2 separate regions of the Homo sapiens genome follow, and region 1 is reported to be linked to region 2. The links are microRNA targets in miRTarBase. Many come from high-throughput screens and were not tested one by one. Region 2 holds a microRNA gene; the other region holds the end of a gene's coding sequence.

Evidence for each region. Region 2 holds the annotated microRNA hsa-miR-6885-5p (AGGGGGGCACUGCGCAAGCAAAGCC, at 1,511-1,535, shown strand). A microRNA usually pairs through its seed, bases 2 to 8, with sites in the 3' UTR of a target mRNA and lowers its output. Matches are read on the target gene's strand: a 7mer-m8 pairs with bases 2 to 8, a 7mer-A1 pairs with bases 2 to 7 and ends in A, and an 8mer does both.
Region 1: the mRNA of BAG5 is a reported target of hsa-miR-6885-5p. Seed matches in the 3' UTR shown: 8mer at 3,045-3,052.

Annotation. Positions count from the first base shown.
Region 1 is chr14:103,556,281-103,560,803 of GRCh38, reverse strand. It overlaps BAG5 (BAG cochaperone 5), which reads left to right. Exons shown (of 2, transcript NM_001015048.3): 2 at 1-4,253. The coding sequence ends at 983. Among named protein-coding and RNA genes, the nearest start is that of BAG5, 4.1 kb to the left of the region's middle.
Region 2 is chr19:6,387,209-6,391,208 of GRCh38, reverse strand. MIR6885 (microRNA 6885) reads left to right here and starts at 1,506; the gene lies at 1,506-1,571. It overlaps GTF2F1 (general transcription factor IIF subunit 1), which reads left to right. Exons shown (of 13, transcript NM_002096.3): 4 at 1,572-1,765; 5 at 3,650-3,820. RefSeq lists an enhancer at 3,677-4,000.

The sequences.
Region 1 (4,523 bases), not on the chromosome of region 2:
ATGAGTTTGAAGAAGGCATCCAAGATATCATTCTGAGGCTGACACATGTTAAAACTGGAGGAAAAATCTCCTTGCGGAAAGCAAGGTATCACACTTTAACCAAAATCTGTGCGGTGCAAGAGATAATCGAAGACTGCATGAAAAAGCAGCCTTCCCTGCCGCTTTCCGAGGATGCACATCCTTCCGTTGCCAAAATCAACTTCGTGATGTGTGAGGTGAACAAGGCCCGAGGGGTCCTGATTGCACTTCTGATGGGTGTGAACAACAATGAGACCTGCAGGCACTTATCCTGTGTGCTCTCGGGGCTGATCGCTGACCTGGATGCTCTAGATGTGTGCGGCCGGACAGAAATCAGAAATTATCGGAGGGAGGTAGTAGAAGATATCAACAAATTATTGAAATATCTGGATTTGGAAGAGGAAGCAGACACAACTAAAGCATTTGACCTGAGACAGAATCATTCCATTTTAAAAATAGAAAAGGTCCTCAAGAGAATGAGAGAAATAAAAAATGAACTTCTCCAAGCACAAAACCCTTCTGAATTGTACCTGAGCTCCAAAACAGAATTGCAGGGTTTAATTGGACAGTTGGATGAGGTAAGTCTTGAAAAAAACCCCTGCATCCGGGAAGCCAGGAGAAGAGCAGTGATCGAGGTGCAAACTCTGATCACATATATTGACTTGAAGGAGGCCCTTGAGAAAAGAAAGCTGTTTGCTTGTGAGGAGCACCCATCCCATAAAGCCGTCTGGAACGTCCTTGGAAACTTGTCTGAGATCCAGGGAGAAGTTCTTTCATTTGATGGAAATCGAACCGATAAGAACTACATCCGGCTGGAAGAGCTGCTCACCAAGCAGCTGCTAGCCCTGGATGCTGTTGATCCGCAGGGAGAAGAGAAGTGTAAGGCTGCCAGGAAACAAGCTGTGAGGCTTGCGCAGAATATTCTCAGCTATCTCGACCTGAAATCTGATGAATGGGAGTACTGAAATACCAGAGATCTCACTTTTGATACTGTTTTGCACTTCATATGTGCTTCTATGTATAGAGAGCTTTCAGTTCATTGATTTATACGTGCATATTTCAGTCTCAGTATTTATGATTGAAGCAAATTCTATTCAGTATCTGCTGCTTTTGATGTTGCAAGACAAATATCATTACAGCACGTTAACTTTTCCATTCGGATCATTATCTGTATGATGTGGTGTGGTTTGTTTGGTTTGTCCTTTTTTTTGCGTTTTTAATCAGAAAACAAAATAGAGGCAGCTTTTGTAGATTTTAAATGGGTTGTGCAAGCATTAAAATGCAGGTCTTTCAGAATCTAGAACTAGGCATAACCTTACATAATACTAGGAAAATTATGAGAAAGGGGAAATTTTTGGTTAAATAAGAGTAAGGTTCAAACACAAGCAGTACATGTTCTGTTTCATTATGCTCGATAGAAGGCTTTTTTTTCACTTATAAGGCCTGATTGGTCCTACCCAGCTTAACGGGGTGGGGTTTTTTTGTTTGTTCAGACAGTCTGTTCTTTTGTAAACATTTTTAGTTGGAAAAACAGCATCTGCATTTTCCCCATCCTCTACGTTTTAGAGAGGAATCTTGTTTTTGTGTGCAACATAAGAAAATTATGAAAACTAATAGCCAAAAAACCTTTGAGATTGCATTAAAGAGAAGGGATAAAGGACCAGCAATAATACCTTGTAAGTTGCTTTTGTTTGTAAAATCTGAGCTTATAGTTTTCCTTAGTGAGTAAATTCATAAGGATGGGAACATTTAAATTAAGTTAATGGGCCTTTAAAAAAAAAAAAAGGAAACACTCATACCTGTAGTTGGAGGATGAATACTGGAGACGGGTTACCAATGTCAGGTTATACTAAAACTAAATCAGAAAGTCTGAATGTAGCACATAATGGTTCTCTTCTGTTGTCCAAGGCTGTAAAATGGACAGCCTTGTCACACCTCCCCGGTGCTGTTTTACAACGTGAGGGTAGACGCTGTCAGTAACCCAGAGGGACCAGGCCTTCCTAGGTTTTCTAGGCAGTCAGCTGTTAACCACTCACTTAGTAAATGTCATAACTACACCTGCTCCAGGACCAATCAGTGAAACCTGCTCGGAATTAAAGGCTTCCTCTGGGTGCCTGCTGAACAACTGAGCTCATGTCATGGGCATGTGGTGGTTTCTCTGTTGCCTGAAAGAGCCATTAAAGTCAGTCGTGCGTGAAGCATCTCTCTTCTAAAGGATGTGTATTTCCATAAATGCTTTCTGAGGATCCGGTACAAAATGATTTCCCAAAGTTCTGAAGTGCCTTGAGAACATGTGGGTCCGAGTGTTATAACAGACTCCTCCCCCGGGTCACCTTTTGCCTGGTCATCCTGTTAGAGTACATCTTTGGAAATCCAGGGTAATATTCTCTTTCAGAGATGCTCATTGTGTAACTCTGTGTAGGGAGATAGTCACTTTAAACAGCTCAAAGTAGCTAGCTAAAGGAGTAGCCTTAAATACCTAAAAGATGACAGAAGCATAGCCCTTAACAAATCTTCAGCTTGTCTCTCAGTATTTCCCAATCATGAAAATCCCTTGCTATGTCTTTCCTACTAGAAATGTTCTAGAATCGCTGGACGGTGGGGTCAGAGGGCAGTCGGTATTTAGGCCGTGAGCTTCCCATACTACTGCAGGTCCAACTCCTGGCAACCGCGGGCTCAAGGCAGGTCATTGGAATCCACGTTTTGGCCACAGTAGTTGTAGGATTGCTTTTCTGTATCATAATTTTAGAATGCTCTTAAAATCTTGAGGAAGAGTTTTTATTTTTTATTTATTTTTGAGATGGAGTCTCTGTTGCCCAGGCTGCAGTGCAGTGGTGCCATCTCAGCTCACTGCAACCTCCACCTCCCAGGTTCAAGCGATTCTCCTGCCTCAGCCACCTGAGTAGCTGGGAGTACAGGCATGTGGCACCATGCCTGGCTAATTTTTGTATTTTTAATAGAGTTGAGATTTCACCATGATGGTCAGGCTGGTCTCGAACTCCTGACCTCGTGATCCGCCCGCCTCGGCCCCCCAAAGTGCTGGGATTAACGGGTGTGAGCCACGGCGCCCAGCCCAGGAAGAGTTTTTAAATTAGAGCTCTGTTTAATTATACCACTGGGAAATCATGGTTACGCTTCAGGCATATTCTTCCCCAGAGTACTACTTACATTTTAAATTTCATTTTGTAAAGTTAAATGTCAGCATTCCCTTTAAAAGTGTCCATTGTTCTTTGAAAGTAGACGTTTCAGTCATTCTTTTCAAACAAGTGTTTGTGTACCTTTTGCCAAGCTGTGGGCATCGTGTGTGAGTACAGGGTGCTCAGCTCTTCCACCGTCATTTTGAATTGTTCACATGGGTAATTGGTCATGGAAATGATCAGATTGACCTTGATTGACTGTCAGGCATGGCTTTGTTTCTGGTTTCAATCTGTTCTCGTTCCTTGTACCGGATTATTCTACTCCTGCAATGAACCCTGTTGACACCGGATTTAGCTCTTGTCGGCCTTCGTGGGGAGCTGTTTGTGTTAATATGAGCTACTGCATGTAATTCTTAAACTGGGCTTGTCACATTGTATTGTATTTTTGTGATCTGTAATGAAAAGAATCTGTACTGCAAGTAAAACCTACTCCCCAAAAATGTGTGGCTTTGGGTCTGCATTAAACGCTGTAGTCCATGTTCATGCCAAAAATGGCTGGGAACGTTTGCTTTATTTACATTCAGTCAGCGTTGCTTTCAGATCACACTTTATCCACACAGGAAAGCCAGTCAGCCTATAATGAAGTAGTTATTAAAATAAATGTAATGAATATGTCTACAAAGTATAGTTTAGTGGTTTATTTTGCTAAAATGCACATATATTTGATATAATTTAGTTTGAGAAGTTCAGCTAGTTTTTCTCCTTTGTTTGACTTTGTCAATTTCTATCTGGTTTTTAAGGGTCTGAGCTTAGCTTGTGCATGCAAGGTTTTGGGTTTTTTTATTTTTTTTTTGAGCACAGCTTTTCACCTTTTAATTTGTTGGGTATTTTTCTCTTAATAAGAGAAATATTGGCCATCGATTTTTACATATAATACAAGTGTGTTTTTCCAGTACATTGGTTCCTGTCCCCTCTCTGTGAACTGTTTGAGTATTGGAACAGTATGTCTTCAATAATTCAATGTTACTTTGAGATACATGTGTTAATATACCCTTAGTTATTCTTGAAATAAAACCAGTCTCTTACGCTTGCAGTGGAGAAAGGCTGTGAGTCTGAGGTGTGTGTTCTCTATATATTATCACCTTCATGAACTGTCTGACCTGGGTGCGGAGCCCTTTTTTTTTTTTTTTTTGAGACGGAGTCTGGCTCTGTCACCCAGGCTGGAGTGCAATAGCGCGATCTCGGCTCACTGCAACCTCCGCCTCCCAGGTTCAAGCAATTCTCCTGCCTCAACCTCCCGAGTAGCTGGGATTACAGGTGCCTGCCACAACGCCTGGCTAATTTTTTGTATTTTTAGTAGAGACAGGG
Region 2 (4,000 bases):
TTGGGAAGTTGTAGTGTGTGTGATCTGGCTGCTATGGGGAGACAAACTGTGGGTTTGAGGGCAAATAAACGGAGACCAAGGTAGAAGCAACTGGACTGGTCTAGGTGAGTCCTGGCAGGGCACTGGAGGCAGTGGAGGTTATGAGATGTGGCTGATTCTAGAGTGTTTTGGAAATGGTATATATGGACCTTAAATCAAGAGCTTAAGGGTAATTCGGATCACATTAGCCATGTAGGTCACGATAAATTGTTAATTTGTAGAGATTTTGGTGCCTTAATGTCAGCAAGTGTTGCACAATGAGTTTCTTTTTATTTATTTTATTTTATTTTTTTGTGATGGAGTCTCTTGTCATCCAGGCTGGAGTGCAGTGGCGCGACCTGGGCTCACTGCAACCTCCACCTCCCAGGTTCAAGCCATTCTCCTGCCTCAGCCTCCCAAGTAGCTGGGATTACAGGCGCCCACCACCACGCCTAGCTAATTTTTGTATTTTTAGTAGAGACGAAGTTTCGCCATGTTGGTCAGGCTGGTCTTGAACTCCTGACCTCAAGTGATCCACCCGCCTCAGCCTTCCACCATGCCCAGCCTTTTTATTTTTAGGAAATAGATATAGGATCTCACTATGTTGCCCAGGCTGGTCTTTTTTTTTTTTTTTTTTTTTTTTGGGGACTGAGTCTTGCTTTGTCGCCCAGACTGGAGTGCAGCGCCAGGATCTCGGCTCACTGCAAGCTCCGCCTCCCGGGTTCACGCCATTCTCCTGCCTCAGCCTCCCAAGTAGCTGGGATTATAGGCGCCTGCCATCATGCCCGGCTTATTTTTTGTATTTTTAGTAGAGACGGGGTTTCACCGTGTTAGCCAGGATGGTCTCAATCTCCTGACCTCGTGATCCACCTGCCTTGGCCTCCCGAAGTGCTGGGATTACAGGCGTGAGCCACCGCGCCTGGCCTTTTTTTTCTTAAGACAGAGTGTCACTCTATCACCCAGGCTGGAGTGCAGTGGCATGATCTCGGCTCACTGCAACCTCCGCCTCCCAGGTTCAAGCCATTCTGATGCCAGGCTGGTCTTAAACTCCTGAGCTCAAGTGATCCTTCTGCCTTGGCCTCCCAAAGTTCTGGGATTACAGGTGTGAGCCACAGCACAATGAGTTTCGATATGCATGCATTCTGGAGAGATGTGTGGAAATTCTAGGTACTTAGACATTTTTTGAAAAGAATCCTGGAACCAGATGCCTGCTGTAGATAATAGGGAAGTCTAATTAATTACTTCTACATTCCTCAGATAAGGAATTTTGCCTCCGATGGCCTGCTTGATGGTCACCAGGTGGTCTTTTTCTCTTTAATTTTAATTTGGAAATAATTTCAAGCTTTTAAGTTGCAAAAATAGAGCGCAAGGCTCGCCCAAATTCCCTTTACCCAGATTTGTCAAAGGCTACCGTTCTCCTCCCTTGTTGCCAAGTGGTAAGTTGGTTTTGAGAATCTAGAGCTTGGCCTAGGGCAAGGAAGGGCGTTCCTGGAGGGGGGCACTGCGCAAGCAAAGCCAGGGACCCTGAGAGGCTTTGCTTCCTGCTCCCCTAGGCTCGGCTGGAGCGGGACTTGAGCAACAAGAAAATCTACCAAGAGGAGGAGATGCCCGAATCGGGCGCGGGCAGTGAGTTCAACCGCAAGCTTCGGGAGGAGGCTCGGAGGAAGAAGTACGGCATCGTCCTCAAGGAGTTCCGGCCCGAGGACCAGCCCTGGCTGCTCCGGGTCAACGGCAAATCAGGCAGGAAGTAAGTGGTGGGGCGGTGGCGGTGCCGGCTTAGTGACCAGTCCACATCCCCAGGCCTCAACTTACATACTTTGTGGGGTACCCTCTCTGAACCTCAGATTCCCACTGCTGCAGTGGAAGTGCTGGCACTTCCATCCCTGTAGGATTTTATTATTTATTTATTTATTTATTTATTTATGTTATCTTATTTTACTTACTTGTATTTTTTTGAGACAGAGTCTTGCTCTGTCGCCCAGGCTGGAGTGCAGTAGCACGATCTTGGCTCACTGCAACCCACACCTCCCAGGTTCAAGTTATTCTCCTGCCTGAGCCTCCTGAGTAGCTGGGATTACAGGTGCCTGCCACCACCACGCCCAGCTAATTTTTGTATTTTTAGTAGAGACAGGGTTTCACCATATTGGTCAGGCTGGTCTCGAACTTGGCGATCCTCCCGCCTCGGCCTCCCGTAGTGCTGGGATTACAGGCGTGAGCCACCGTGCCCAGCCTACTTATTTATTTTGAGACAGGGTCTCACTCCGTTGCCCAGGCTGGAGTGCAGTGGTGCGATCGTAGCTCACTGCAGGCTCCAACTCCTGGGCTCGAGATCTTCCCACCTCAGCATCCTGAGTAGCTGGGACTATAGGCACGCCCCACCATGCCTGGCTAATTTTTGTATTTTTGGTAGAGATGGGGTCTTGCTGCGTTGCTCAAGCTGGTCTTGAACTCCTGGGGTCAAGTGATCCTCCTACCTTGGTCTCCCAAAGTGCTGGGATTATAGGTATGAGCCACTGCCCAGGCCCTGGGGTTGTGTTTTTGAAGACAGTTCACTGAGTTGGTGCTTGTGCCTGGCTCTGAGGCAGCTCTGAGTGCCACAATGCAGGAAGCTTAGGTGGCCAGCCCTGGGAGCTCATGACACTTGAGATGACCTCTCAGAGGGGGCAGACTGAGGGCAGAACAGGAGGGGTCCAGGTTAGGTTGATGAAGGGTGCTCCAGGCACAGCAGTTGGGTGATAGTGACAGACACAGGCAGCTCACACAGGGCAGTGGGTGCCAGGATGTGCTGGGTCCAGCGGAGCCTTGGAAAGCTGTAGGCAGGGAAGAGGCACTCACCCAGACTGTCCGGAACTTTGGGGTAGAAAAGAATGAGGTAGAGGCCTCAAGGAGGCTGGGCAGTTGTTTAGGCTTGAGGAAATGGTGGCCCGGGCCAGGTGTCCACTTCAGATTTGGCCATGCCATGGCTGGGCGCGGTGGCTCACGCCTGTAATCCTAGCCCTTTGGGAGGCAGAGGCGGGCGGATTACGTGGGGTCAGGGGTTCGAAACTAGCCTGGCCAACATGGTGAAACCCTGTCTCTACTAAAACTACAAAAATTAGCTGGGTGTGGTGGCAGACACCTGTAATCCCAGCTACTCGGGAGGCTGAGGCATGAGAATTGCTTGAACCCGGGAGGTGGAGGTTGCAGTGAGCTGAGATGGTGCCACTGCACTCCAGCCTGGGTGCCAGAGCGAGACTCCATCTCAAAAAAAAAAATTTGGCCATGCCTTCCCGCCCCATCTTCTCACTTGGCTCCTCAGTTTCCCGGGTGTGGCCCACAGATAGCAGAGCTGGAGGCAAATGTAGACAGTTTGACTGCAGGGTTGGGCTCTCCTGAGATAATCTCACACAGTCTTTCCAGAAATGATCCCGATGTGCACACGCCCAGCACTTTGCAGGGTAGGTGCGCCGGCCCTGTTCCCCAGATGTGGAAATTGACGAGGCCCAGGTGGTTGAAGGGCCTGCCCAGGCCTCATGGGCATTTCTTGGTCTTCCTCCTATGGCAAGTGCCATAAAGGAGGCAGGCCCCGGGGGGACACGGGGGGGCTGGGGCTGGTCCCTATGGGCCAGGCCATGACCGTGGCTCCCTGCAGGTTCAAGGGCATCAAGAAGGGAGGCGTAACAGAGAACACGTCCTACTACATCTTCACCCAGTGCCCCGACGGGGCCTTCGAGGCCTTCCCCGTGCACAACTGGTACAATTTCACACCGCTGGCCCGGCATCGCACGCTCACTGCCGAGGAGGCCGAGGAGGAGTGGGAGAGGTGAGTGGGCTGGGTGGTGGCTGGGGACAGAAGTGAGGGAAATGGGGTGCCTTGCCATGGATATATCACCAGGCCCTGTGCTGGGAGCTGGGGACTCAGGGGTAACCAGGGCAGACCCCACTCGGCCGTCTCAGAGCTGTCAGTTCAGGAGGAAACAGATAGGAGGCCTTAGGGCCACAA